Homo sapiens: one gene and its partners. The protein of the gene in region 1 purifies or fractionates together with the protein of each later gene. This does not show direct contact. Each region holds a gene or a part of one and is shown in the gene's direction. Other genes may lie near its edges. The genes, in order: DPEP2, PLTP, KDELR3, QSOX1, POGLUT1, POGLUT2 and ARSK.

Region 1 (4,514 bases):
CTCCAGCCTGGGCAACAGAGCAAGATCCTGTCTCAAAAAAAAAAAAAAAAAGAAAAGAAAAAAGGCCGGGCGCAGTGGCTCATGCCTGTAATCCCAGCACTTTCAGAGGCCAAGGCTGGTGGATCACCCGAGGTCAGGAGTTCGAGACAATCCAGCCTCATCAACATGGTGAAACCCCATCTCTACTAAAAAAAATACAAAAATTAGCCAGCCTGGTGGTGCATGCCTGTAATCCCACGTACTTGGGAGGCTGAGGCAGGAGAATCGCTTGAACCTGGAAGGTGGAGGTTGCAGTGAGCCGAGATCGTGCCCTCGCACTCCAAAAAAAAAAAAAAAAAGCACCCCAGGAATGTTGGACAGAGAGGCTGGCGGGGTAGGGGTTGGTTGGTAAGGCTTGAGCAGAAGGTTCTAGATGCATTCAGGAGATAAAGATGCATTTGGGGTTATTGCACTTCTCCTAGAAACATAAACATTGACTTCCTTTTGTGGAAGAAAAATGTTATGTTAGCTATTTGACGTTTCAGGAAGGGTGGCTTCAGCTTGGTGATTGGAGGATGTTTGTCTACAGTGGCCAGGCTGCTTTCTGGCTTGGAAGACTATTGTTTCTTGGGAATTGTCTGTATCAGACATCATGGGAGCAGATCCAGGGCGACATCAAAGGGAAGCATGAGTCTCCAGGACCAGAGGGGCTTGGATGCAGATGATCATCATCTGGGCACTGCTGGATACTGAGTAAGCCCCAGCTGCACCCCACCTCTGCGCTCTGAGCATGGGAGGCAGCCTGTGCAGCTATAACTCAGCCTGACTTTTTCCTTCCCTGCATACTCTTGAAATACACTGGAGATGAGTAGGGGCGAGTGAGCTGCACACCAGAATAAGTTTGGTCCTTGGAGCAAACTGTTTCTACTGCTGCCTCCTCTGCAGGTCTTGATTTATGCAAACACTGCATAGAAGAGGAAGTAGAGGGAAAAGCTGTTCACCCACCTACTCCTTCCTGGTAGCAAGATTTCCTATCCTGGCCTTGCCTCAACAGCCCTACCAATTGGAGGCTGAGGTTGTGCCAAGGCTCTATGGGGGGACGTAGCATCACTGAGGTGGCCAGATTTTGGAGGACAGGAAAGTTTGTGCTATTTGCTGAGACTGGAGAGGCTGGTGAGAGCAGACTCTCCATGAGTTGAAAGCCAAAGAAAGAAATTCGGTAGATTTCTGCAATGAGAAGCCACGGAAGAACTTCAGGCAGGAGGATGCATTGGATCTTGTTTTCGTTTTGTTAGAGATGGGGTCTCACTCTGTCGCCCAGGCTAGGGAGCAGTGGTGCCATCGTCTCTCACTGCAACCTTAAACTCCTGGGCTCAGGCGAACCTCCCACCTCAGCCTCGTAAGTACCTGGAACCACAGGCATGCACCACTTTTTTTTTTCCTTTTTCTTAGAGTTCTCATTATGTTGCCTAGACTGGTCTCAAACCTCCGGCTTCAAGAGATCCTCTCACCTCGACCTTCAAATTACTGGGATTACAGGCATGAGCCACCATGTCCTACCAGACTTTGTTAAAAGAGGAACAGGCCAGGCATCGTGGGCTCACATGAACACTCATGCCCCAGAAGTAAACAAGTGTTAGCCAACCAGGAGGCCTATCCTCCCCCTAACCTCACCCAAAGCCATCTCTGTGCCCTCCCCCTTGCAGGGGAAACAGCACACACTAGTGAAATCTTGTCTTAGTGTGTCCGGAATTGGTGGGTTCTTGGTCTCACTGAGTTCTAGAATGAAGCTGCAGACCCTCGCAGTGAGTGTTACAGCTCTTAAGGTAGCGCGTCTGGAGTTTGTTTCTTTTGATGTTTGGATGTTTGGAGTTTCTTCCTTCTGGTGGGTTTGTGGTCTTGTTGGCTCAGGAGTGAAGCTGCAGACCTTCGTGGTGAGTGTTACAGCTTTTAAGGCAGTGCGTCTGGAGTCGTTTGTTCCTCCCAGTGGGCTTGTGGTCTCGCTGGCTTCAGGAGTGAAGCTGCAGACCTTCGCGGTGAGTGTTAAAGCTCATAAAAGCAGCATGGACCCAAAGAGTGAACAGTAGCAAGATTTACTGCAAAGAGCAAAAGAACAAAGCTTCCACAGTGTGGAAGGGGACCAGAACAGGTAGCCACTGCGGGCTCAGGCAGCCTGCTTTTATTCTCTTATCTGGCCCCACCCACATCCTGCTGATTGGTAGAGCCGAGTGGTCTGTTTTGACAGGGTGCTGATTGGTGCGTTTACAATCCCTGAGCTAGACACAAAGGTTCTCCACGTCGCCACCAGATTAGCTAAATACAGAGTGTCGACACAAAGGTTCTCCAAGGCCCCACCAGAGCAGCTAGATACAGAGTGTCAGTTGGTGCATTCACAAACTCTGAGCTAGACACAGGGTGCTGATTGGTGTGTTTACAAACCTTGAGCTAGATACTGAGTGCCGACTGGTGTATTTACAATCCTGAGCTAGACGTAAAGATTGTCCACGTCCCCACCAGACTCAGGAGCACAACTGGCTTCACCCAGTGGATCCCGCACCAGGGATGCAGGTGGAGCTGCCTGCCAGTCCTGCGCCATGCGCCCGCACTCCTCAGCCCTGTGGTGGTCGATGGGACTGGGCGCTGTGGAGCAGGGGGCGGCGCTCACCGGGGAGGCTCCGGCCGCACAGGAGCCCATGGAGGGGGTGGGAGGCTCAGGCATGGAGGGCTGCAGGTCCCGAGCCCTGCCCCCCCGGGAAGGCAGCTAAGGCCCGGTGAGAAGTCGAGCGCAGCGCCTGTGAGCTGGCACTGCTGGGGGACCCAGTACATCCTCCGCAGCCACTGGCCCGGGTGCCAAGCCCCTCATTGCCCGGGGCCAGCAGGGCCCGCGGGCCGCTCCGAGTGCGGGCCCGCCAAGCCCACGCCCACCCGAAACTCCAGCTGGCCCGCAAGCGCCGCTCGCAGCCCCGGTTCCCACTCGCGCCTCTCCCTCCACACCTCCCTGCAAGCTGAGGGAGCTGGCTCTGGCCTTGGCCAGCCCAGAAAGGGGCTCCTACAGTGCAGCGGTGGGCTGAAGAGCTCTTCAAGTGCCGCCAAAGTGGGAGCCCAGGCAGAGGAGGCCCCGAGAGCGAGCGAGGGCTGTGAGGACTGGCAGCACGCTGTCACCTCTCATTAGGAGCTGCCAATATCAGTGGCACAGACCTGAGCACAGGGATAATTTGGGGTCAGAGGCTACAGTCTAAGTTAGCTAGATGCTGGCAGTGGGCAGAGTGGAAACAAGGCAGAGGCGGGGAAACTCAGGGCCTGACTCCAGAGCCGACCTTAAGTGTCACCGCTGATTCCTCCTTACTGTCTCCCACCAACCCTGCTTCAAAGCATCTCCAAATCCTGGGTTCAACTTCCAAACATGTCCCAGGAATGTCTCCTTCCTGTTCCCACTGCTTCTCCCCCTTACAGGCCCCTTCATTCCTTACCCCTCCTGATCTCCTGGCCTCCAGCCCATTCCCTACAGAAAAGCCATACCTATTTCTTCCATTTTAAAAAATGTGAGCTGGGCGCGGTGGCTCATGCCTGTAATCCTAGCACTTTGGGAGGCCAAGGTGAGTGGATCACGAGGTCGGGAGATCAAGACCATCCTGGCTAACACGGTGAAACCCCGTCTCTACTAAAAATACAAAAAATTAGCCGGGCGTGTTGGCGGGCACCTATAGTCCCAGCTACTCGGGAGGCTGCGGCAGGAGAATGGCCTGAACCCGGGAGGCGGAGCTTGCAGTGAGCCGAGATTGTGCCACTGCACTCCAGCCTGGGCGACAGAGCGAGATTCCATCTCAAAATAAATAAACAAATAAATATAAAAATAAAAAATTTGGCCAAGGGTCGGGGGTGGCTCATGCCTGTAATCCCAGCACTTTGGGAGGTCAAGGCAGGCGGATCACCTGAGGTCAGGAGTTCGAGACCAGCCTGGCCAACATGGCAAAACCCCATCTCTACTAAAAATACAAAAATTAGCCGGGAGTGGTGGCATGCGCCCGTAATCTCAGCTACTCGGGAGGCTGAGGCAGGAGAATCACTTGAACCCAGGAGGCAGAGATTGCAGTGAGCCAAGATTGCACCATTGCACTCCAGCCTGGGCAACAAGAATGAAACTCTGTCTCAGAAAATAATAATAATAATAATAATAATAATAATAATAATAATAATAATATCATTATCTATTTTTTTACAGACAGGGTCTTGCCCTGTCACCCAGGCTGGAATGCTATGGTGTTATCATAATGCTCACTGCAACTACAAGTGTGGGTGTGTCTGTGATTCGCTTTGTATGGTCCCCTCAAGGCCACATTTGAGGACTGAAGTTGCATATCATGGAAAATTGTGTTGTCTGGCTTATCTCCTACAGAGACAGTGCTCACTTTTACTGGCTCAACTCAGCCTGCCTCTGCTGAGCTAGCAGGTACCCCAAGTCCCAGGAGGTCAGACATTCGGGCTCTGGAGAGAAGCTTAAAAAAAAATGCAAAAAGTTGGCCGAGTGCGGTCGC
Region 2 (3,891 bases), on another chromosome or scaffold:
CCCACAGCTCATCTGCCTAGCGCAATGCAAAGTGCATAGGCCTGGGAATCAGACCAACTGGGTCCAAAGCTCAGCTCTGTCACTTCCTGGCTGTGTGAACGTGGCCAAGTCACTGAAGCTTGGTGCCTCAATATCCTCATTTTATAAGATCCTATTTTATAAGATCGTTGTCAGGATTATTTGTGTTGGTATATGTAAAAAATATTTAGAACAAGGCTGGCTGTGGTGGCTCATGCCTGAAATCCCAGCAATTTGGGAGGTCTGGGCGGGCGGATCACAAGGTTAACAGATCGAGATCATCCTGGCCAACATGGTGAAACCCCATCTCTACTAAAAATACAAAAATTAGCTGGGCGTGGTGGCACGTGCCTGTAGTCCCAGCTACGTGGGAGGCTGAGGCAGGAGAATCGCTTGAACCCGGGAGGCGGAGGTTGCAGTGAGCTGAGATCGTGCCACTGCACTCCAGCCTGGTGACAGAGCAAGATTCCATCTCAAAAAAAAAAAAAAAAAAAAATTTAGAACAGCACCTGGCATATGATAAATGTATATTTAAGTGCTGGCCACTTAGATAAGAGTAACTGTGAGGACTATCTGATATGCACATTTGGCCATGTACTGGATTCTCAATAATTGGTATCTCTAAATAATAATAACAAAAATAATAATTTTTTTTTTGAGAGGGAGTCTCACTGTGTCACCCAGCCTGGAGTGCAGTGGCGCCATCTCGGTTTACTGCAACCTCCACCTCCTGGGTTCAAACGATTCTCCTGCCTCAGCCTCCCAAGTAGCTGGGACTACAGGCATGCACCACCATGCCCAACTACTTTTTTTGTATTTTTAGTAGAGACAGGGTTTCGCCATATTGGCCACGCTGGTCTCAAACTCCTGATCTCAGGTGGTCTGTCCGCCTCGGCCTACCAAAGTGCTGGGATTACAGGCCTGAGCAACTGTGCCCGGCCTATTTTTTTATTTTTGCTGCTGAGAAGGGGATATTGTTCTTGTTCTGGAAGAGGATGGGGGAGAGAAGATGATGGATTATAACCTGGTGTTGGTACACTGTCAGTATTATTTATTCATCAAACAAAGTGTATGCCAGTCCCTGAGGATGCAGGAAGGAGCTCAGAGCCTATCTGGAGCAAAAAACATTTGATATCAGGGCCTGGAGAGAAGGACTAAGAAAATGCTTTGGGGATTCAGAGGAGGGGAATCTGGGAAGACTGCCTGGAAGAGGAAGCATCTGAGCTCAGATGGGAAAATACAGAGTAGGAATGCAGAGGGCGGAAGGGAGGGCATCAGTAAGCCGATGGATGTGGGGATGCTCAGAGTGGGTTTGAGGCAATGTGGGTGGATTCATTTGACTGATGGGACCAGAGAGTAGGTCAGGAGGTCTTGAGAATTAGACTGGAGAGGGAATTTGGGCCTGGTTCTTGGAAAACCTACGTGGAGGAGCTGTTATTCAGGCTGAAGCTGAGGACTCCTACTGCCACTATTTCCCTAGTCACTGATTTCTCCTGGACCTGGACTGGGGTGGAGGCAGGTTCTGGGCTCATCCGGCCTCTCCTCTCCTCACAGGAAGGTGTATGATTTTCTCTCCACGTTCATCACCTCAGGGATGCGCTTCCTCCTCAACCAGCAGGTGTGGGCAGCGACAGGTCGCAGGGTGGCAAGGGTGGGCATGCTCTCACTTTGAGAAGGCCCTGACTCTGGCTCCCACCTCGCAGATCTGCCCTGTCCTCTACCACGCAGGGACGGTCCTGCTCAACTCCCTCCTGGACACCGTGCCTGGTGAGTTGGTGGCGGGTGAGTCTGGGTGTGCAGCTGTCATGCAGCACCTCAGAGCAGGCCCCTTCCGAGCCCTGCTGTTGAACAGTCCTGGGTTCAAATGTGGCCCCTGGAGCTGACTTGTTGTGCGATTTTGGGTGAAGTGCTCATTTCTGTCTGGGCAAAGTGCTTGTTTCCTCACTTGGCTGGCAGTGCCTCCTCCTGGGGTTGCTGTGAGGATTATCTGAGAGAATAGTTGTCAAGGTCCTCAATATGTGCATGCTGATCACTGGCATCCCATTTGTCTTCATCACCTAGCATCTAATAGGTGCTCAATTAACATGAATTCCCTTTTTCTTTTTCTTTCTTTTTTTTTTTTTTTTGCACGGAGTCTTACAGTCTCACTCTGTTGCCAGGCTGGAGTCCAGTGGCGCGATCTCAGCTCACTGCAATCTCCACCTCCCGGGTTCAAGCAATTCTCCTGCCTCAGCATCTCGAGTAGCTGGGACTACAGGCGTGCACCACCATGCCCAACTAGTTTTTTGTGTTTTAGTAGAGACGGGGTTTCACCATGTTGGCCGGGATGGTCTCGATCTCCTGACCTCCTGATCTGCCCACCTTGGCCTCCCAAAGTGCTGGGATTATAGGCATGAGCCACTGTGCCTGGCCATGAATTCCCTTTTTCTAAGCCATGACCTCTGTCTACTGTGGGGCAAAGGTATTTTCCCATCACACCTAACACACAGGCATGGGAAGCGAAGGAGGAGGTAGGAGAAACCAAGGGAAAGGAACCTCATGCCATCTTTTTTTTTTTTTTTTTTTTTTGAGATGGAGTCTCGCTCTGTCACCCAGGCTGGAGTGCAGTGGTGCAATCCTGGCTCCCTGCAACCTCCACCTCCCAGGATCAAGCGATTCTCCTGCCTCAGCCTCCTGAGTAGCTGGGATTACAGGCGCCCACCACCATGCCCAACTAATTTTTGTATTTTTAGTAGAGACGGGGTTTCACCGTGGTGGACCAGGCTGGTCTCGAACACCTGACCTCAGGTGATCCGCCCGCCTTGACCTCCCTAAGTGCTGGGATTACAGGTGTGAGCCACCATGCGCGGCCCCCCCATGCCATCTTGTTTAGTTATTTTTTTGAAACCTCTATAGTGGTAGTAATAATAATAACTAACATTAATGAGCACCTAACTACACACCAGGCCCTAAGTGCTTTCCACATAAAACTAATTTGACCCTCATGACAACCCTGTGAAGGATGTATCCTCATTTTATGGGTGGGCCTCTGAGCCTGGAGAGGTTAAGCACCTTATCCCACATCACACAGCCGTGAGTGACTTGAGCCCCTTCCTGCAGTGCGCAGTTCTGTGGACGAGCTTGTTGGCATTGACTATTCCCTCATGAAGGATCCTGTGGCTTCCACCAGCAACCTGGACATGGACTTCCGGGTGAGCTGCTTGGGCTGGTGTATGACCTCTGACTTCCTAACAAGACCTCTTTCTCTGCTAAGTTGCAAGATTTTACTTCTTAAAGCACAGCTCTGATGAGGCCACTCCCATTACTGAGAATGCTATGGCTCCCTGTTACTACAGAATTAGGTTCAGCCTCCTGGGTCTGGCATTTGAGCCCCTGTTAATCTTACCTGGCCCCACCTTTTATATCTCATCCTGTTTCTTTGCAGCTGCTCTTTCCCAAATTGGACCCTGGCTTCCCACCTCAGGGCCTTTGCTCATGCACGGCCTTTCCCCAACTCCCCCGAAGGAGCTGGACATAAATTTCTATACAAATAATCTCATTTCATTCTCTCACAACCCTGTGAGTCAGGTACTAACATCATCCTAATTTTAGGAATGTGGAGACTTACTCATAGAGGTGACGTCACTTGCCCAAGGCCACATAGCCAGTGTGTAGCCACTACCTTTGGTCTCCCAGAGGAGTATAGCAGTTTCAGAGTGCAGACTCGGGAGCTAGAATCAGTCGGGTGCAGTGGCTCATGCCTGTAATCCCAATACTTTGGGAGGCCCAGGCGAGAGGATCGCTTGAGCCCAGGAGTTTGAGACCAGCTTGGGCATCATAGTGAGACCTCCTTCTCTACAAAGAGAAAAAGAATGCCTGAAGTTCAAATCCTAG
Region 3 (4,368 bases), on another chromosome or scaffold:
AGTAGGGGGCATAGGGAGCCATAGAAGGGTCTTGACCACTGAAGTGACAGATTTTTATCACAGAAAAGAGGCTGGCCATAGTGGCTTATGCCTGTAATCCCAGCATTTGGAAGGCTGAGGCAGGCAGATGGCCTGAGCACAAGAGTTCGAGACTAGCCTGGGCAACACAGTGAGACCCCATCTCTGTTTAAATACATTTGTCATGGAAAAGCCTCTCTGGTTATCTGTGGCAGGAGGTGGGAGTGGGAGGAGGTCCGTTATTTAGAGAGAGATGAGGGCGCTGAATGGGAGGAGGGCTTATTCAGGTCAAGGAGGGGAGGCTAAGGGCCCTCAGCTCACCTGGTCCACTCTTTCAGACGCAGAGACTTATATCCAGAGGGGGTGGTGGACCTGCTCAGACCACACAGCCCTGGGAGGACTCCCTCCCACCAGGGACCCTTCACTCCCCACCCTTCCTGGTGCTCAGCCCTCCTGGGTCTCTCCTGTCCTGTGTGTCCCTGTTTAACATCCTAGTAACACCAAGAAGAGGGAAGGCACGAACGAGGGCCCTGGATCTCCCTGACCAGCTTGACCTCCTGCCTACCCACAACAACCCGATTTTACAGGTGAGAAAATTGAGACCAAGAGAGAGGAAGGCCCACCGACCCAGGCTGCAGCCGAGGTCAGTCTGATTCTGCTGCTGAGTGGTGTGCCATTACCATTGTCCACCTGCAGCAAGATCGGGTCCCGACCGGGTGGACAACCAAATTAACAGACGGAGGTGGGGACTCCGCTTCCGGCTCGCCCCGCCCCACCCCACTCTCCCAGGGAGGGAGCTCCAGCTCCGGGAAGATGAGGACAATAGCAGGAATCGCCCCACAGGGTACTTCCACGTGCTGGCTCCTGCCAAGCGCTGGCACCAGTGTTATGGGGCCTGTGTACAGATGAGGAAACTGAGGCAGAGATTGGGGCTTGGTGGCAGGCCTCCAGTTTCTGCGGAGGGAAGGCAGAGGGCACTTGGGGCATGGGCGACATGGGTCGTGGCGGGCACCCGGCGCACACGGCAGCCGGGCGCAGGCCAGAAGCCCCCCCGCGTCGCCGGGCCGCCCAGTCCGGGAGCCGGGCGCTGGGATGGGCGGGAGGCGGGATCTCCGGGCCGCGCCGCTTCCTGGCTCCCCACCCTGCGCCGGCGGCCGCCCTGGCCACGTCACCGCCCGGCCAAGAGTGCGTGGGCGGCGGCGCGCGGGTGCGATCGCGGAGCTGTGAGGCGCAGGCAGGGCTCTGGGGCACCTAGAGACCGGGGCCGGAGACGTGGCAGCCGCCCTGCCCGCCAGAAAGTTTCCTAGAAGTTTGCTGGGCGCGGGCGCACGACTGACTGGCTGGACCATGAACGTGTTCCGAATCCTCGGCGACCTGAGCCACCTCCTGGCCATGATCTTGCTGCTGGGGAAGATCTGGAGGTCCAAGTGCTGCAAGGGTGAGGGGCGCCTGGCAGGGAGGTGCGGGACCCCCTCTCTGGCCAGCCTCATGCCCCTGCGTGCAGGGCAGGGCGCTCCAGGTGTCTGCTCAGGGTGGGGACTCCGGCGTGGGGGTCCTTGAAACTTTGCGGAGCTCCACTTCCAAAAACAATGTAAAGTTGTATAAAATCAGAGGAGGAGGACCCCTCGAGATGATGGGAGGCGGGTGGGTTTGTTCCTGCACAGACGCCCCCTCAGGTTGGCAGTGTCACTGCTGGTTGGAAGAGGGGGTTATAAGGGAGGTGACAACCCCTCCCTCCCACCAGTTACACCCATTGTTCCTTCCACCATCGACTGTGGGGAGAAGCAGATATGCACTCAGGAACGGCCCACGATTCTCAAGGTCTTCTCTTCCCTGCCCCTTCCCAGACCCCACCCCGCCCCCCAAAGTGAGCCCTCGTCCCTCCCCTGCCTGCATGTGTGGCACCGGTGGCTGTGATGTGGCAGGAGGGCACCAGCCGGGCTCAGGCGGGTATGGAGCTGCCTCTAAACGGAAGCCGGGGAAGGCTGGAGGGGTCCCCTGTTTGCATTCTGGCTGCCCTGCTGGGGGTTTGGAGAAGCTTGGAGGCTGGACTCGCGGTCGCCAACAGATCCAGAGCCACGAAAGGCTGCCAGAGCCTCCTCCAGCCATCTTTGTCCACCGGCATCCTCGTGGTGCCCTCCCTGTGCCTGGCACTGGGTGTGCAGAGGCAGGAGTGAGCTCAGGCTCCTCGTGGGGCTGAGGAGGCTGAGAAGGCTGAGAGTGGGCCCCGAAGGCCCTGTGGAAGGAGCAGCTCCGTGCTGGTCCCGGAGGACGAGCAGGTGTCAATCCAGGAAGTGTGTGCTGTGGAGGGCTCCGGGGATGAAGAGGCATGGAGGTCACCAAGCACCGGGCATCCCCCGGGAAGGGTGGGCAGCCAGATTTGGGGTGGTCTGGAGGGAGATGAGTCCAGGAGGGAGGCTGGTCCAGATGTGAAAGGGCCTTTTCTGCCAGGCCAGGGAGTTGGGTCTGGGGAGCCCTTCATGGTTTGGGAGCCGGGAAGGGGCCTGGAAGGGGGCCTGAACAGGTTGCTTTGCAAGCTTTGAGAGAAAAGGCACAGAGCAGGGGGAGGCCTGGCAGGGTGGGGGTTGGTGCAGACATGAGCAACAGTACGGTGTGGAGGGAGTGGTTCTAGGCCTGGAGGCCATTTGGGTTTGGGGTCTCTGGAGAGACAGGTACAGAGACAGTTCAGGTTCTTCCTCAGGGGAGGTGGCCAGGAATGCTGAGTGGGGGACCCGGAGCAGCAGGCCCTGGTGAGGGGAGAATCAGCTCCAACCTCTTCCTGCACTTTTGCAGAAGGCCCTGCACGGAGTGAGCAACCATGACCAAGAGGGGACACTGGTACCTGGCCGCTGTCTGCCAGACACTGCTGGGCACCTAGAATACAGCCCGGACAGCAGAGGCCCAGCCCTGGTGGAGCTGACTTTCTTTTATTTATTTTTTATTTTTATTTTTTAACAGAGTTTCGCTTTGTCCCTGAAGCTGAAGTACTGTGGTGTGATCTCGGCTCACTGCAACCTCCACCTCCCAGGTTCAAGCGATTCTCCTGCCTCAGCCTCCTGAGTAGCTGGGATTACAGGCACGCACCACCACACCCGGCTAATTTTTGTATTTTTAGTAGAGACGGGGTTTCGCCATGTTGGCCAGGCTGGTCTTGAACGCCTGACCTCAGGTGATTCACCCACCTCGGCCTCCGAAAGTGCTGGTGCTGGGATTGTAGGCGTGGGCCACTGCGCCCACTTCTTTTTTTTTTTTTTTGAGACAGAGTTTTGTTCTATCCCCTAGGCTGGAGTGCAGTGGCGCAATCTCGGCTCACTGCAACCTCTGCCTCCCAGGTTCAAGCTATTCTCCTGCTTCAGCCTTCCAAGTAGCTGGGATTACAGACGCCCGCCATCACACTCAGCTAATTTTTGTATTTTTAGTAGAGACGGGGTTTCGCCATATTGGCCAGGCTGGTCTCGAACTCCTGGGCTCGAGTCACAGGTGTGAGCCACCATGCCCGGCCAAGTGGTGGACCTGACTTTCTAGTGGTAGGAAGCCATCAATAAACAATAGTCCTAGGAAACTGAGCAAATGACACGGTTTGTTGGAGGCCATAGTGAGTACTATGGGAACAGAAAAAGGGCAGCTGGGTGGCAGGGATGGGCCTGTGTGTGCACAGAGAGAAGTCAGAGGTGATGGAGGCAGGGCCTGGTATGACCTCAACAGACCCAGCCCCAAAGACCAGAGACTTGGGCTTCACTCTCACTCCTCCCCTTGACTCGCTGTGTGACCCTGGGCCTGTGTTTTCCCATTTGTCAAATGGGAGTGAGGGCTGCCCCTGGCAGTGGGGTCCACCTATGCTTAGTGGACCCCGGAGGGACTCTGGCCAGTCCAGGCTCACATTGTCCTCTGTGTCCCGGGTCTCCATGTGCAGCTTCCTGGTGGAAATGATTGTTTTCAAAAGTGTGAAAACTATTGTGCTCAAGATCACCGGGGGGCTGGGCACAGTGGCTCACACCTGTAATCCCAGCACTTTGGGATGCCAAGGCGGGTAGATCACATGAGGTCAGGAGTTCAAGACCAGCCTGGCACGTGGCGAAACCCCGTCTCCACTAAAAATACAAAAAAATTATCTGAGTATGGTGGCAGGTGCCTGTAATCCCAGCTACTCATGAGGCTGAGGCAGGAGAATCGCTTGAACCTGGGAGGCGGAGGTTGCAGTGAGCTGAGATTGCACCATTGCACTCCAGCCTGGGCAACAAGAGCAGAACTCTGTCTCAAACAAACAAACAAGCAAAACAAAACTGAAGATCACAAGGGTTCCCAAAGTGCTAAGGAAAATGTGAGTAAAACCCAGGGGACTGGCAGGCT
Region 4 (3,891 bases), on another chromosome or scaffold:
TAATCTGTATTTTCTAATTACCCATCCTCTGGAAGGGCAGTGGCGAGCCCTTTCTGCAGACAAGGAAGCTGGCGTTCTGAGTGGAGGAGTGTGGTCTGGGTTTTTGGGTGGGACTGATGTCACCACCAGCCTGTGTATGCTTCCCTCTGTAGGTGCCCCCAGCGAGGACCCCCAGTTCCCCAAGGTGCAGTGGCCACCCCGTGAACTTTGTTCTGCCTGCCACAATGAACGCCTGGATGTGCCCGTGTGGGACGTGGAAGCCACCCTCAACTTCCTCAAGGCCCACTTCTCCCCAAGCAACATCATCCTGGACTTCCCTGCAGCTGGGTCAGCTGCCCGGAGGGATGTGCAGAATGTGGCAGCCGCCCCAGAGCTGGCGATGGGAGCCCTGGAGCTGGAAAGCCGGAATTCAACTCTGGACCCTGGGAAGCCTGAGATGATGAAGTCCCCCACAAACACCACCCCACATGTGCCGGCTGAGGGACCTGAGGCAAGTCGACCCCCGAAGCTGCACCCTGGCCTCAGAGCTGCACCAGGCCAGGAGCCTCCTGAGCACATGGCAGAGCTTCAGAGGAATGAGCAGGAGCAGCCGCTTGGGCAGTGGCACTTGAGCAAGCGAGACACAGGGGCTGCATTGCTGGCTGAGTCCAGGGCTGAGAAGAACCGCCTCTGGGGCCCTTTGGAGGTCAGGCGCGTGGGCCGCAGCTCCAAGCAGCTGGTCGACATCCCTGAGGGCCAGCTGGAGGCCCGAGCTGGACGGGGCCGAGGCCAGTGGCTGCAGGTGCTGGGAGGGGGCTTCTCTTACCTGGACATCAGCCTCTGTGTGGGGCTCTATTCCCTGTCCTTCATGGGCCTGCTGGCCATGTACACCTACTTCCAGGCCAAGATAAGGGCCCTGAAGGGCCATGCTGGCCACCCTGCAGCCTGAACCACCTGGGGAGGAGGCGGGAGAGGGAGCTGCCATCTCTAGGCACCTCAAGCCCCCTGACCCCATTCCCTCCCCTCCCACCCCTTGCTCCTTGTCTGGCCTAGAAGTGTGGGAAATTCAGGAAAACGAGTTGCTCCAGTGAAGCTTCTTGGGGTTGCTAGGACAGAGAGCTCCTTTGACACAAAAGACAGGAGCAGGGTCCAGGTTCCCCTGCTGTGCAGGGAGGGCAGCCCCGGGCAGTGGGCATAGGGCAGCTCAGTCCCTGGCCTCTTAGCACCACATTCCTGTTTTTCAGCTTATTTGAAGTCCTGCCTCATTCTCACTGGAGCCTCAGTCTCTCCTGCTTGGTCTTGGCCCTCAACTGGGGCAAGTGAAGCCAGAGGAGGGTCCCCCAGCTGGGTGGGCTGGAATGGAACTCCTCACTAGCTGCTGGGGCTCCGCCCACCCTGCTCCCTTCCGGACAATGAAGAAGCCTTTGCACCCTGGGAGGAAGGACCACCCCGGGCCCTCTATGCCTGGCCAGCCTCCAGCTCCTCAGACCTCCTGGGTGGGGTTTGGCTTCAGGGTGGGGTTTGGAAGCTTCTGGAAGTCGTGCTGGTCTCCCAGGTGAGGCAAGCCATGGTTGCTGGGCTGTAGGGTGAGTGGCTTGCTTGGTGGGACCTGACGAGTTGGTGGCATGGGAAGGATGTGGGTCTCTAGTGCCTTGCCCTGGCTTAGCTGCAGGAGAAGATGGCTGCTTTCACTTCCCCCCATTGAGCTCTGCTCCCTCTGAGCCTGGTCTTTTGTCCTTTTTTATTTTGGTCTCCAAGATGAATGCTCATCTTTGGAGGGTGCCAGGTAGAAGCTAGGGAGGGGAGTGTCTTCTCTCTCCAGGTTTCACCTTCCAGTGTGCAGAAGTTAGAAGGGTCTGGCGGGGGCAGTGCCTTACACATGCTTGATTCCCACGCTACCCCCTGCCTTGGGAGGTGTGTGGAATAAATTATTTTTGTTAAGGCAAGCATTGGTGTGTTCTTTAACTTGCTACTTGGAGACCTAGTGTCCAGTCTGGACAGAATGCACAGAGACCAGCCTCACCTGGAATGCAGCCAGACTCGATGTCCCTCAGCACACACAGCTCCTGGCCACAGACTGCCCATAGAACTGTCTGCACCCAAACCCCATGGCCTTTTCATGCACGGAGACAGGCCTCTGGATGTGCAGCCTTGCCACCCCCTGCCCCAATCCTCCCTGAGAGCTCCTGCCTCAGTGCCCTGGGCTGGTGAGGGAGAAGCCTGTCTGCACCTGCCTAATTCCAGCTCCTCCAGGAAGCAAGGGCTTGTTTGTCAGAGCTGCAGGGTTGGCCACTCGGTGGGGAGGAGTCAGCCAGGATTAGAGAGCCTGCCCCTAATCCGGCCTGCTGGGTTTTACAAGGATCAGAGCTGCTGATAATGAACCTCATTAAGGGGGAGCAGGAGCCTCAATCCGATTTGGTTTTCTCTTTGACATCTTCACTCTGCTCAGATGGCCTGGGTGCTATGTGGAGCAGGTGGGATGCCAAGGCCACTCCTGCTATGGGGCAGCTGGGGCTGGGGAGGGATGGCAGTCTCCCTGCATGTTTCCCTCGACCTCTTTAGCTGCAGCGCCTTGCTGGGCTCCTGGGTTGGACTCCCTCTCTGTGCCCCTGCTCCAGGCACCCATTGGCTCCATCCTCCTGGTTGTGCTCTGCACCCCCTGCTCCCTTGGGCTGGCCCTGGCTGGGGGCCTGAGAGACAGACAGGAACCCACAATCAGGAGGCAACCCTGGCCTGCAAGAGGAAGACAGAGGCTCCCAGGGCCGGTGCCCTGTGTGCCCACTGCACCAAGGCCGCTGAATAAGCCTGCCCTTCACCCCCTAAGGGCTCCTTGCCCAATGCCAAGTGCTGGGGATTTCTGTCAGCAAGCCCTGTGGCTCCAGTGACGGTATTTCTAAAGCCAAACTTAGTTACCTAGAATTAGCGCCATGTTGGAAACACTGTCGCAGCAGCCCGGGCTGCACAGTGTGTAGCCCAGCCTCCAGGTCCACGGAGTGGTGTGGACCTCCCACCTCACAGCTGCCTCTGGCAGCCAAGCCTCTTTTCGCCCGGCCCCAGCCCCTCTGGTTGATAAACGGGTGGGCCTCCTCAGCAGCGTGGCTGCCTTTCACCTTGATTTCCCCAGGGCTCTCGGCAACATCGATAAACCAGCCTCGCCCACCAGCTGGGCCCTCCCCCACCCAGTCTGCCAGGCTGGGAGCTGGAGCTTGCTGAGTCTTGAATGCCCTTCTAGATGGCTTCTCTAGAGGCTCTCCTGGCAAGAGAGGGTCCCAAGGGGAGCCCTGCAAAGCAAAGGCTCCTTGTCTGGGGCGGGATAGAGAATCTCGCCTCTGTCTGGTGTGTTACCTACTGGGGGCACAGGAACAATTTCCTCAAGGAGACAGTGGCATGGAGCTTTGAAAGACGAGTAGGTGTTAGCAAGGAAATAAGGAGGAACGGGGGTTACGGGCAGAGGAGAAAGCACATGCCAAGTCAGCAAAGAAAAGTAGAATTCGAAAACTTTTTAAAAATATTACTAAGGATTTTCACAATGCTGCACTGGGCTAGAAACTGAAGCTAAAACAGATACGTGGTCCCTGCTGCTATGGGGCTTCCGTTCTAGAGGCAAGGACAGGTTGTGATGAGGGTTCTGAAGGATAGAGACCAAGCAGGGAGGGTGTTGAGGAGGCTTCTGCGAGACCTGAAGGATGGGAAGCCAGGAAGTGGGAGGGGTGGGGGTCCAGGCTGGAGGGGCCCAATGTAGGTGTAGAGGGACTACAGCCCTGAGGGGCTGCTCCATGCGGCATTCTTGGAGGTCCAAGAGGGGCAGCGCCACCTTGGGCCAGGCTCCTCTCCAGCAGCCTTGGTATGGGGTGGGGGTGGGAAGACCCCTGATGCAGCCTGTCCTCTGGGTGTGGGGGTGGAGGAGAGGGC
Region 5 (3,891 bases), on another chromosome or scaffold:
CCGAGGCAGGTGGATCAAAAAAAAAAAAAAAAGGGGGGAACATATGGCTTTAAACTTTTTTCTTTTTTTTGAGGCAGAGTCTCACTCTGTTGCCCAGGCTGGAGTGCAGTGGCGCGATCTCAGCTCACTGCAACCTCCACCTCCCAGGTTCAAGTGATTCTCCACCTCAGCCTCCTGAGTATCTGGGACTATAGGCACCTGCCACCATGCCCGGCTATTATTTTGTGTGTATTTTTTAGTAGAGACAGGGTTTCACCATGTTGACCAGGCTGATTTCAAACTCCTGACCTCAGGTGATCTACCCGTCTCGGCCTCCCAAAGTGCTGGGATTACAGGTGTGAGCCACCGTGCCCAACCTCAAACTTCTTTCAAAAGATATGTGATAACACCCCTTCTCATTTTGCTCATCCATACTTCTGACCCCGATCAGTGAATAACCAAGAATTTATTGACCAATCAATGTGAGCCCAACAGTGCCATAGTATGAGATAACACTAGCCAATATTTATCAAGTATGTACAATGTGCCAGCTACTGTTCTAAGAATTTTACGTGTATCAACTCATTTAATATTCAAAATAAACCTTTTAGTTAGATCATATTATTGATATTATTGTTTCCCCCATTACAGTGATAAGGAAGCTGAGGCATAGAACCATTAAGTAACTTGCCTAGAGCTGTAAAGAGGTGGAGTCAGAATCCAAACCCATGTGATCCACATCAGGAGCCCACACTCTTAACCATTGCATGTATTTCTTGGCTCTTACTCTCAAAAAAACCCATTGGGAAATAACCAAAAACTGGTAAGACAGTGTAAACTCTTAAATGTAATAGTTAAACAATGAGAGAGCTCTGTGATTATTCAGAATTGGGCATATTGTTTCCTTAAATTGGAAATCTTAACAGTATATATCCTCTAGAAAAACAGAATTTGGGGGAACTGAAAAAGCTGACCTTTAATGTGATTCTGAATTCTGGAATTCAGTGAGCCCATGACTTTTAATCCATAGTCACTTTTGCCTTTTAATGTCTACAGGCTAGACTTTGGAAAATAGGGAAAATATATCTTTGACAATGTGACACTAAACCAAGGCTGTCCAGATCCTGTGGCATGATTGCAGTTGCCTCTTTTCACTGTTCCAAGACTGATTTAGGACGACCTGTCTGTTTTTGTTGAAGACATCAGAGTACCATGATATCATGTATCCTGCTTGGACATTTTGGGAAGGGGGACCTGCTGTTTGGCCAATTTATCCTACAGGTCTTGGACGGTGGGACCTCTTCAGAGAAGATCTGGTAAGGTAGGTCCTTTAAAGAGGTTTTATTTTTTCTCTTTCTGGGTTTTCTTGAAATAAGCCATAGAATATAACCAATTATTTACTTTTTTTTTTTTTGAGACGGAGTTTCGCCCTTTTTGCCCAGGCTAGAGTGCAATGGCGTGATCTCAGCTCACCGCAACCTCCGCCTCCCAGGTTCAAGTGATTCTCTTGCCTCAGCCTCCCGAGTAGCTGGGATTACAGGCATGTGCCACCACACCCGGCTAATTTCGTATTTTTAGTAGAGACGGGGTGTCTCCATGTTGGTCAGGCTGGTCTTGAACTCCTGACCTCAGGTGATCTGCCCACCTCAGCCTCCCAAAGTGCTGGGATTACAGGCGTGAGCCACCGCGCCCAGCCTATTTATTTTTAAGTGACTAATTTTTAAGTTAAAAATTAAAGACAGAAAACTGTAGTGTAAACAATTTTGTACGTGTCTAATAATATTTACATATCCATAGAAAGGGGCAGAATAGTCTATCCTAAACTATCAGCAATGCCTCTTTGCAAGGGATTATCAGAGACTTTTGTTTTGTATTTTAAATTTTTCTTTCTTTTTTTTTTTTTTTGCGACACAGTCATGTTCTGTCTCCCAGGCTGGAGTGCAGTGGTGCTATCGCGGCTCACTGCAACCTCTGCCTCCCAGGTTCAAGCAATTCTCTTGCCTCAGCCTCCCGAGTAGCTGGGATTACAGGCATGTGCCACCACACCTGGCTAATTTTTTGTATTTTTAGTAGAGATGTGGTTTTGCCATGTTGCCCAGGCTGGTCTGGAACTCCTGGCCTCAAGTGATCCACCCACCTCGGCCTCCCAAAGTGCTGGGATTACAGGCACGAGCCCCTGTGCTCAGTCAGTATTTTCAATTTTTCTATACTTAAGATTCTTTAAATAAGAGTGCATTCTTTCATAGTAAGAAAAAATGAATGACCTCGTCATAGGGGGGATAGAAAATTATTTGGAAGAATATAAACATACTTGGCAATTGAGAGCTAAGTAGTTTAGGCAGGGCTGAGGGAGCATAAATGTCCCATAAGCATCTCAAGTACAAGCTTATTCCAGATCCTCTCTGATTCATGACTGAGACATGCCTTGGCCTGTTGACTCCATCCTGCTATCATTTCAGAATTTAGATTGTGTAGCTCATCCAAGCTGTAGGTATTTCTTACCTAGCTACATTTTACATCATGATTCAAACAACTTTGGTGCTTAATTAGAGAACTTCCGGAAACACAGTCATTATAGGCCTTCTCTCAGGTATAAGGAAAGCAAACAATTCAACCTTGTTTCCATAAATACCTATCACCTCTCCCAAGTGTGGCTGAAGATTCAAAGAGGATTAAGGTAATATTCCCTTCCTGAAGAAACGTACAGGGCTGCAGTCCTCAGTGGTGGGTAGAGCCCTTTGTTAAAAAACAAACTTCTCTAGTGGGTATAATTTGGAAATTTTAAAAAATAATAACTTAGTCTCATATTTTACAGAACTGGAACTAGAAATTGTCTTTGTCCAGCCCTTTATTTCAGGGATAAGGGAATGAAGGTACAGAAAGGTTTAGTGATCTGGTCAAGGTCAGAAGCAAATCTAGGCCTAAAGACCAGGTTTCCAAGTGCATTATCCAACCTACTTTACTGGTTAATATTCCTTGTGTTTTCCTGACATTGAGACTGTCATTTCTTGTTTATTTTTGGGTTTTGAACATAATTTTGAGAGGGGGGGAAAAAGGTGTGGTTTTTTTGTTTCTTGGTTGTTTTTTAAAATTTTTTGTAGAGACAGGTCTTGCTATGTTTCCCAGCCTGATCTCAAACTCCTGGGCTCAAGTGATCCTCCCACCTTGGCCTCCAAAGTGCTGGGATTACAGGCATGAGCCACCACACTAAGCTGGAAAAAAGGTTTTAAACTTTTTTTTCCCTAAGTTATTCTTGGCCTTGGCCTTAATTTTCTAATCCTTTCCCCCCCTCCTCAGGTACTTGCAAATACCCTTTTCACATTCTTCTTTTTGTAGCTCTTTTCCCACCTGCCATGCAGCTGCTTTGTTTTCAAAATCTTTAAAAACATTTTTACTGATTATGAAACCTATATATGCTCATAAAATTTTACAAATATGTATAACTCAGGCAACTTTCCCCCTAACTTATTGGTGTATCTAAGTAATCTTTCCATGTCTTTGTTTCATGTCAGTACATATGAAAGAGTCACTTTATTTATTTGTTTGTTTGTTTATTTTTAAAAGGCAGGATCTCACTATGTTGCCCAGGCTGGACTCAAACTCCTGGGGTCAAGGTGTTATCCAGTTACTCCACCGTGTAGTTATTAATACCATTTTCCCCCAGGTAAACTAGTAAGCAATTTTTAGGCAGATAGAATGTTTTAAAGTCTAATCTTATATGAATACTTTTTTCTTTTGATACCTTCCCATTTTATTCAATTGAATTTATTCATGGTTATAGAAATACAATTTTGTTTTTTAGAACCCTCTGTTTAGAATCTCTAATGATGTTCATTTGTTACCTTGAAAATTTAATAATCTGCTTGTTTATCCATCTGCACTGATGTCTGCCTGCCACTGTTCATTCTATTT
Region 6 (3,891 bases), on another chromosome or scaffold:
GCGATTATCCTGCCTTAGCCTCCCATGTAGCTGGGATTACAGGCACGCACCACCATGCCAGGCTAATTTTTGTATTTTTAGTAGAGACAGGATTTCACCATGTTGACCAGGATGGTTTCGATCTCTTGACCTCATGATCTGCCTGCCTCAGTCTCCCAAAGTGCTGGGATTACAGGTGTGAGCCACCATGCTCGGCCATTCTGATGTTTCTTATATAGGATGAGAGTACAGTTTTATTACCTAGAGCCATCTCCTTCCCTCTTACAGGCGACAGTACCACAAGACAGTAGGGAAGCAGTGTATATACAAAGGCAGAAATCTTGTCCCCCCCTTAACAACCCCAAGAAAAGTAAACTTTTTTTTTTTTATTTTTGTGAACTCTGCAGAGAAGTAAGAAAAGGTAAACACTTTTCAAGAGTGTCTAGGTTCCTTTCCTACATTCTGCCAGTACAGCCTGGTACAGTATCACCCACTAAACCTTAAAAAGATATTCCATTGTCAGCCACTGCCTGGGTTAGGTGGGATCTGAGAATTATAAAAAGGAATAACAGTAAAAACCTCAGTGCAGACTGTAATTAATTTGTTATAAAATTAGTGAAGTGGACTGTTTTGAGAATTACTTTTGCTTCTTTTTGTTGCCGTTGTTGTTGAGACAGGGTCTCGCTCTGTTGCCCAGGCTGGAGTGCAGTGGTGCAATCACTGCTTACTGCAGCCTCGACCTCCTGGGTTCAAGCAATCCTCCCACCTCAGCTGCATGAGTAGCTGGGACTACAGGCACTCACCACCATGCCCCACTAATTTTTGTATTTTTTGTAGAAACAGGGTTTTGCCATGTTGCTCAGACTGGTCCCGAACCCTGGAGCTCAAGTGATCTGCCCACCTCAGTCTCCCAAAGTGCTAGGATTACAGGCGTGAGCCACTGTACCCAGCTACTTTTGCTTTTTTTTTTTTTTTTTTTTTTGAGACGATGTCTCGCTCTGTCACTAGCCTAGAGTGCAGTGGTGCAATCTCGGCTCACTGCAAGCTCTGCCTCCCGGGTTCAAGCGATTCTGCTGCCTCAGCCACCCAAATAGCTGAGACTACAGGGACGCGCCACAACACCTGGCTAATTTTTGTATTTTTAGTAGAGACGGGGTTTCACCATGTTGACCAGGATGGTCTCGATCTCCTGACCTCGTGATCCGCCCGCCTCAGCCTCCCAAAGTGCTGGGATTACAGGCATGAGCCAAGAACCCAGCCTACTTTTCCTCCTTAATAATTCTTAAAAAAAAAAAAAAAAAGAATAGCAGTTCCTTGTTTATTTTTGCTGTTATTGATGATTTACTTATTGAGAAAAGTACCTTAGACACTTTAAGAACCTGTTTGTATAACAGACCATCAAAATAGTAAATCATATCACTTTTGTCTTTCATTAAAATAGGTATGCTCCTCTGATACCCTTTTACCAGTATTTGGTTATTCTTCAGTCTGCAAAACATAAGGAATAATGAGCTGTAATATTACCATAGACATAAACCAAGTATCTGTTGTCTTTCTTTTATTTTTTGAAACAAGAGTCTCACTCTGTCCCCCAAGCTGGAGCACAGTGGCACAATCTCCGCTCACTGCAACCTTCACCTCCCAGATTCAAGCTATTGTCATGCCTCAGCCTCCTGAGTAGCTGAGATTTCAGGCACACACCACCATACCCAGCTAAACTTTTTTGTATTTTTAGTAGAGATGGGGTTTCAACATGTTGGCCAGGCTGGTCTCAAACTCCTGACCTCAAGTTATCCACCCACCTCAGCCTCCCAAAGTGCTGGTATTACAGACGTGAGCCACTGCACCCAGCCTCTATTTCCTTTCTTTTGAACTCATGCAAAGTAGACCTTATTATTATGAAAATATCACAAAACTTCACTGTGAAGAGCTGTCAGAGTAGAAGGCTGACTTACTTGCAATGCCCCAGTATAGTAAAAATGTATTACTTTTTTTTTCTTTGAAACGGGCTCTCACTGTCTTGCCCAGGATGGAGTGGCGCAAACATGGCTCACTGCAGCTTCAACCTCCTGGGCTCAAGTGATCCTCCCACGTCAGCCTCCCAAGTAGCTGAAACCACAGGTGCATGCCAACGCACCCAGCTAATTTTTTATTTTTTGTAGAGACATGGTCTCCCTGTGTTGCCCAGGCTGCTCCCGAACTCCTGGGCTCAGGCTGTCTTCCTGCCTCAGCCTCCCAAAGTGCTGGGATTACCGACATGAGCCAACCTTGCTGGCCTGTAATTCTCTTAAAATGTGTTTTCAATGAAAATGCTCTTCCTATGTAACTAAGCAAAATTCATGAAGCCACATTATAGATGTTTATTACAAGTTTCGAATGCTGAGTGAAATGATCACTGTTGTACTTTGTTATTCTTATGTAAATAGGGCCGGTTTACCATGAGAACTGTGACTGTCCTCTGCAAGATAGTGCAGCCTGGCTACGGGAGATGAACTGCCCTGAAACCATTGCTCAGATTCAGAGAGATCTGGCACATTTCCCTGCTGTGGATCCAGAAAAGATTGCAGTAGAAATCCCAAAAAGATTTGGACAGAGGCAGAGCCTATGTCACTACACCTTAAAGGATAACAAGGTACAACACATGATTTTTTGCTTGTTTGTTTTAGTGATTTTTTTTCTTGTTTTGAACATTTGGCTACAATTAGCTAAATCATTTTATAAACATCATTCGAATGAGCACTGTGACAAGCTTTTCCTCAGTGAAGTCTGCCAGCGTCTTTAGACTAACATAATAAATGGTAAATTCTCTTTTAGGTTTATATCAAGACTCATGGTGAACATGTAGGTTTTAGAATTTTCATGGATGCCATACTACTTTCTTTGACTAGAAAGGTAAGTATATATTTTCTCTTAGCTGTAATAGATAATTTAAGCCCAGATTTTACAGGATAATTTTTCAAAATACAAATTATACACTATCAGGGTATTCTCTTCTGGAGCCTTATGATAATACTATTCTGAAGCTTTCTGTTATTTCAGGTACCTGCGTTTGTTTCCTAGGGCTGCCGTAACAAAGTGCTACAAACTGGAAGCCTTAAAATAACAGAAATGTATTCTCTGGCAGTTATGGAGGCCAGATGTCCAAAATCAAAGTGTCAGCTAGGTGCCATGGCTCACGCCTGTAATCCTAGCACTTTAGGAGGTCAAAGCGGGTGGATCACTTGAGCCCAGGAGCTTGAGACCAGGCTGGGCAACATGGTGAAGACCTGTCTCTACAAAAAATACAAAAATTAGCCTGTAGTAGTTTCAGCTAATGGGGAGCTGAGGCAGGAAGATCGCTTGAACCTAGGAGGTCGAGGCTGCATGAGCCGAGATCACGCCACTGCACTCCCAAGGCCTGGGTGACAAGAGTGAGATCCTGTCCCCCCCCAAAAAAAATTAAAGTGTCAGGAGGCCAGCTCCCTCTGAGATGATCCTTTCCTTTCCTTTCCTGCCTCTTCCTGGCTGCTGTCAGTGGCCCTCCATCTTTGGTGTTCCTTGGTTTGCAGCTGCATCCTCCCATCTCTGCCTCTGTCATCACGTGGGCTTCTCCCCTCATGTCTCTGGGTCTCTTCTTATAAGGACACAGCATAGTGGATTAATGGCCCAGCCTACTCCAGTATGACCTCATGCTAACTAATATCTGCAACAACCCTATTTCCAAATAAGGTCATTCTGAGACACTGGGATTTAAGACTTCAGCATATCTTTTGCAGGGACACAATATTTTATAGAGGAAAGAAAAATGCCTTATCATAAAATTATTTTGGTACTAAACTAACTCTGAGTCCAAAGATGACTTGCCTTGTACTGAATCCCATTCCTTGGGATAATGGGCTTTTGTTGGGTTCTAGTGGAATGGTTTGAAAGTAA
Region 7 (3,142 bases), on another chromosome or scaffold:
GATCTCTGACTTGCTGTTCTTCCAGTTAGATTGGTATACTAGTTATATCCCTGTCTTCCCATACCATATCTAAAAAGTATCTTTATGGATCTGAAATATTTATCATTATTTTCTTGCTGGCAGTGATTGAGAAGTTTGTATTTCCATGGCTGTTTGTTCAAATGGACAGTACTGATGAATGTAACTTTCAAAACTCCAAGCATAAGATACTAATATATAAAGAAAACTAGGACTAAGTAAAGTTGCAGGAACATGACTTGTCTATATAAAGAATTTGTAGAAAGTTTGAGGCTGTTAAAATGGTACAGTATAAGCATTACTGTATTCATTTCTGCCTGTCAAAGTAGGCAGGACATCAAAAACAGGAAGAACTTGTTCTAAACCAGCTTACTAATGATAAAAGTTTGACTTTTTCTGGCATTTAAGAAAAGAAAAAAAAAGTGGGATAGCTGGACAATGGTAGGAAGGAGGGAATTTGGGCATGCAACATAGGGTGTTTAACTCCTGGTATGTTATTTTACCATTTATACTGTCCTTCATTTTACTACACTAACAGGAACTGAAAATCTAAAAAAAAAATCTAATACATTACCTGTCATAATGACATTCTAAAAAAATTTTTAGCAGGTCACTATTTTGACAGATACTTATTTTTTTTCTTTCAGATCTTTCCTCGGATCCAGATGAATTAACAAATGTTGCTGTAAAATTTCCAGAAATTACTTATTCTTTGGATCAGAAGCTTCATTCCATTATAAACTACCCTAAAGTTTCTGCTTCTGTCCACCAGTATAATAAAGAGCAGTTTATCAAGTGGAAACAAAGTATAGGACAGAATTATTCAAACGTTATAGCAAATCTTAGGTGGCACCAAGACTGGCAGAAGGAACCAAGGAAGTATGAAAATGCAATTGATCAGTGGCTTAAAACCCATATGAATCCAAGAGCAGTTTGAACAAAAAGTTTAAAAATAGTGTTCTAGAGATACATATAAATATATTACAAGATCATAATTATGTATTTTAAATGAAACAGTTTTAATAATTACCAAGTTTTGGCCGGGCACAGTGGCTCACACCTGTAATCCCAGGACTTTGGGAGGCTGAGGAAAGCAGATCACAAGGTCAAGAGATTGAGACCATCCTGGCCAACATGGTGAAACCCTGTCTCTACTAAAAATACAAAAATTAGCTGGGCGCGGTGGTGCACACCTATAGTCTCAGCTACTCAGAGGCTGAGGCAGGAGGATCGCTTGAACCCGGGAGGCAGCAGTTGCAGTGAGCTGAGATTGCGCCACTGTACTCCAGCCTGGCAACAGAGTGAGACTGTGTCGCAAAAAAATAAAAATAAAATAATAATAATTACCAATTTTTCATTATTTTGTAAGAATGTAGTGTATTTTAAGATAAAATGCCAATGATTATAAAATCACATATTTTCAAAAATGGTTATTATTTAGGCCTTTGTACAATTTCTAACAATTTAGTGGAAGTATCAAAAGAATTGAAGCAAATACTGTAACAGTTATGTTCCTTTAAATAATAGAGAATATAAAATATTGTAATAATATGTATCATAAAATAGTTGTATGTGAGCATTTGATGGTGCTCGATGAGTTACTTGTATTTGATGGGATTGTTTGGATGTATTTAATGGGAGTATTTGGAGTATTTAACGGGATGTAAACCCTGGATGTACCTGATTTTGTTACTGTTTTATTTTAATAGGTAATATATATACAGGGTAAAAGCTTCAAATGGTACAAAAGGGTTAACAGTGATCGTGAAGTCTCTGTCCTTTCCCTCTTCCCTGCCATCCAGTTCCCCCTCCAAGAAGCAAGTACCGAAACCACCTGCTTACGCATTTTTAGAGATTGGCCACAAATTTATAAACAAATGTATATATTCCTTTCCCCCTACACAAACGGTAACATACTGCACACATTGTTCTGCATGTTGCTTCTTTTTCCTTTTTTTTTTCACTTAACAGTAGATATCTAGAGGTGAAATTACTGAGTCAAGACTATATTTAGCAAAATTACACTAGATACTACAAATTACCTCTAAAGAAGGTATACTAACTGATAATCTCACCATCAATGCATGTCTTCTTATCCTTTGCCAACCTAACAGATAAAAATGTTCTATTTTTATTTTTCTTTTTATGAGTAACGTAGAGCATATTTTCATGTATTTAACAGCCACTGGAATCTGCTTTACCATGGCCTTTCCTATTTCTATTCTTTGCCTATTTTTCTGTTGGTTGTTGGTCTTTGTTTTGTATTACAGGTGTGCTTTAGATATTAGCTTTTTGTAAGAGATCCTGCAAATATCTTCTTTCCAGTTTGTCATTGTCATTTGTCTTTTGACTTTGTTCTGGTATTTTTTGATATGTAGAAATTTTTATTTTCATGTAAGCAAATTTATGAATCTTTGTACACCATAAGTATATACAATTATGATTTGTCAATTAAAAATATTAGTACAAAATTTACAGATCTTTGCTTTTGTGGCTTTTGGGATTTTGTATCATATTTAGAATGGCCTTCTCCACTTGTCATTTTTTTTTTTGAGACGGAGTCTCGCTCTGTCACCCAGACTGGAGTGCAATGGTGCAATCCCGGTTTCAAGTGATTCTCCTGCCTCAGCCTCCCAAGTAGCTGGATTACAGGCACCCGCCACCACACCCAGCTAATTTTTTGTATTTTTAGTAGAGATGGGGTTTCACCGTGTTAGCCAGGATGGTCTTGATCTCCTGACCTGGTGATCTGCCCACCTAGGCCTCCCAAAGTGCTGGGATTACAGGCGTGAGCCACTGCGCCTGGCCTCCACTTGTCTTCTTTTATAATTTTATTTTTCACCTTTGGATCTTTGACCCAGCTGGAATGTATTAAACATATTAGAAATCTAACTTTGGTTGTTTTTTTAAATATGCCTACCCATTGATCTTTTATTGAGTAAACTGTCTCTTCTCCCATTCGTAAAAATGTCACTTCATCATATAATACCTTTGGTTGAGTACATTATCTTTTCCTCCATTGATTTGCGATGCCATTTTTATCTATACCAAAGTCCCATTTATACTTATGCCATTTCTGAACATTTTATTTTCCACTGGACCATTCTATTTTCTTTGTTTCTGT

The links.
Region 2: the proteins of DPEP2 (region 1) and PLTP purify together in Homo sapiens (affinity purification with mass spectrometry; 2 studies listed by BioGRID and IntAct, with this or other methods). This does not show direct contact.
Region 3: the proteins of DPEP2 (region 1) and KDELR3 purify together in Homo sapiens (affinity purification with mass spectrometry; 2 studies listed by BioGRID and IntAct, with this or other methods). This does not show direct contact.
Region 4: the proteins of DPEP2 (region 1) and QSOX1 purify together in Homo sapiens (affinity purification with mass spectrometry; one large-scale study listed by BioGRID and IntAct). This does not show direct contact.
Region 5: the proteins of DPEP2 (region 1) and POGLUT1 purify together in Homo sapiens (affinity purification with mass spectrometry; 3 studies listed by BioGRID and IntAct, with this or other methods). This does not show direct contact.
Region 6: the proteins of DPEP2 (region 1) and POGLUT2 purify together in Homo sapiens (affinity purification with mass spectrometry; one large-scale study listed by BioGRID and IntAct). This does not show direct contact.
Region 7: the proteins of DPEP2 (region 1) and ARSK purify together in Homo sapiens (affinity purification with mass spectrometry; one large-scale study listed by BioGRID and IntAct). This does not show direct contact.

Annotation. Positions count from the first base shown.
Region 1 is NC_000016.10:67,996,666-68,001,179, reverse strand, and holds the start of DPEP2 (dipeptidase 2 isoform 1 precursor), read left to right. Parts: upstream 1-1,695; 5' UTR 1,696-1,763; coding exon of another isoform or gene 1,764-1,805; exon of another isoform or gene 1,806-1,913; intron 1,914-4,514.
Region 2 is NC_000020.11:45,905,586-45,909,476, reverse strand, and holds part of PLTP (phospholipid transfer protein isoform a precursor), read left to right. Parts: intron 1-1,572; coding exon 1,573-1,636; intron 1,637-1,721; coding exon 1,722-1,785; intron 1,786-3,117; coding exon 3,118-3,209; intron 3,210-3,891. UniProt on the Homo sapiens protein: Mediates the transfer of phospholipids and free cholesterol from triglyceride-rich lipoproteins (low density lipoproteins or LDL and very low density lipoproteins or VLDL) into high-density lipoproteins (HDL) as well as the exchange of phospholipids between triglyceride-rich lipoproteins themselves.
Region 3 is NC_000022.11:38,466,869-38,471,236, forward strand, and holds the start of KDELR3 (ER lumen protein-retaining receptor 3), read left to right. Parts: upstream 1-1,227; 5' UTR 1,228-1,365; coding exon 1,366-1,456; intron 1,457-4,368.
Region 4 is NC_000001.11:180,196,110-180,200,000, forward strand, and holds part of QSOX1 (sulfhydryl oxidase 1 isoform a precursor), read left to right. Parts: intron 1-152; coding exon 153-928; 3' UTR 929-1,223; coding exon of another isoform or gene 1,224-1,232; 3' UTR 1,233-3,891. UniProt on the Homo sapiens protein: Catalyzes the oxidation of sulfhydryl groups in peptide and protein thiols to disulfides with the reduction of oxygen to hydrogen peroxide. Plays a role in disulfide bond formation in a variety of extracellular proteins.
Region 5 is NC_000003.12:119,478,873-119,482,763, forward strand, and holds part of POGLUT1 (protein O-glucosyltransferase 1 precursor), read left to right. Parts: intron 1-304; exon of another isoform or gene 305-802; intron 803-1,035; exon of another isoform or gene 1,036-1,178; coding exon 1,179-1,300; intron 1,301-3,891. UniProt on the Homo sapiens protein: Dual specificity glycosyltransferase that catalyzes the transfer of glucose and xylose from UDP-glucose and UDP-xylose, respectively, to a serine residue found in the consensus sequence of C-X-S-X-P-C.
Region 6 is NC_000013.11:102,792,321-102,796,211, reverse strand, and holds part of POGLUT2 (protein O-glucosyltransferase 2 isoform 1 precursor), read left to right. Parts: intron 1-2,405; coding exon 2,406-2,611; intron 2,612-2,791; exon of another isoform or gene 2,792-2,793; coding exon 2,794-2,871; intron 2,872-3,891. UniProt on the Homo sapiens protein: Protein glucosyltransferase that catalyzes the transfer of glucose from UDP-glucose to a serine residue within the consensus sequence peptide C-X-N-T-X-G-S-F-X-C. Can also catalyze the transfer of xylose from UDP-xylose but less efficiently.
Region 7 is NC_000005.10:95,602,572-95,605,713, forward strand, and holds the end of ARSK (arylsulfatase K precursor), read left to right. Parts: intron 1-665; coding exon 666-955; 3' UTR 956-2,531; downstream 2,532-3,142. UniProt on the Homo sapiens protein: Catalyzes the hydrolysis of pseudosubstrates such as p-nitrocatechol sulfate and p-nitrophenyl sulfate. Catalyzes the hydrolysis of the 2-sulfate groups of the 2-O-sulfo-D-glucuronate residues of chondroitin sulfate, heparin and heparitin sulfate.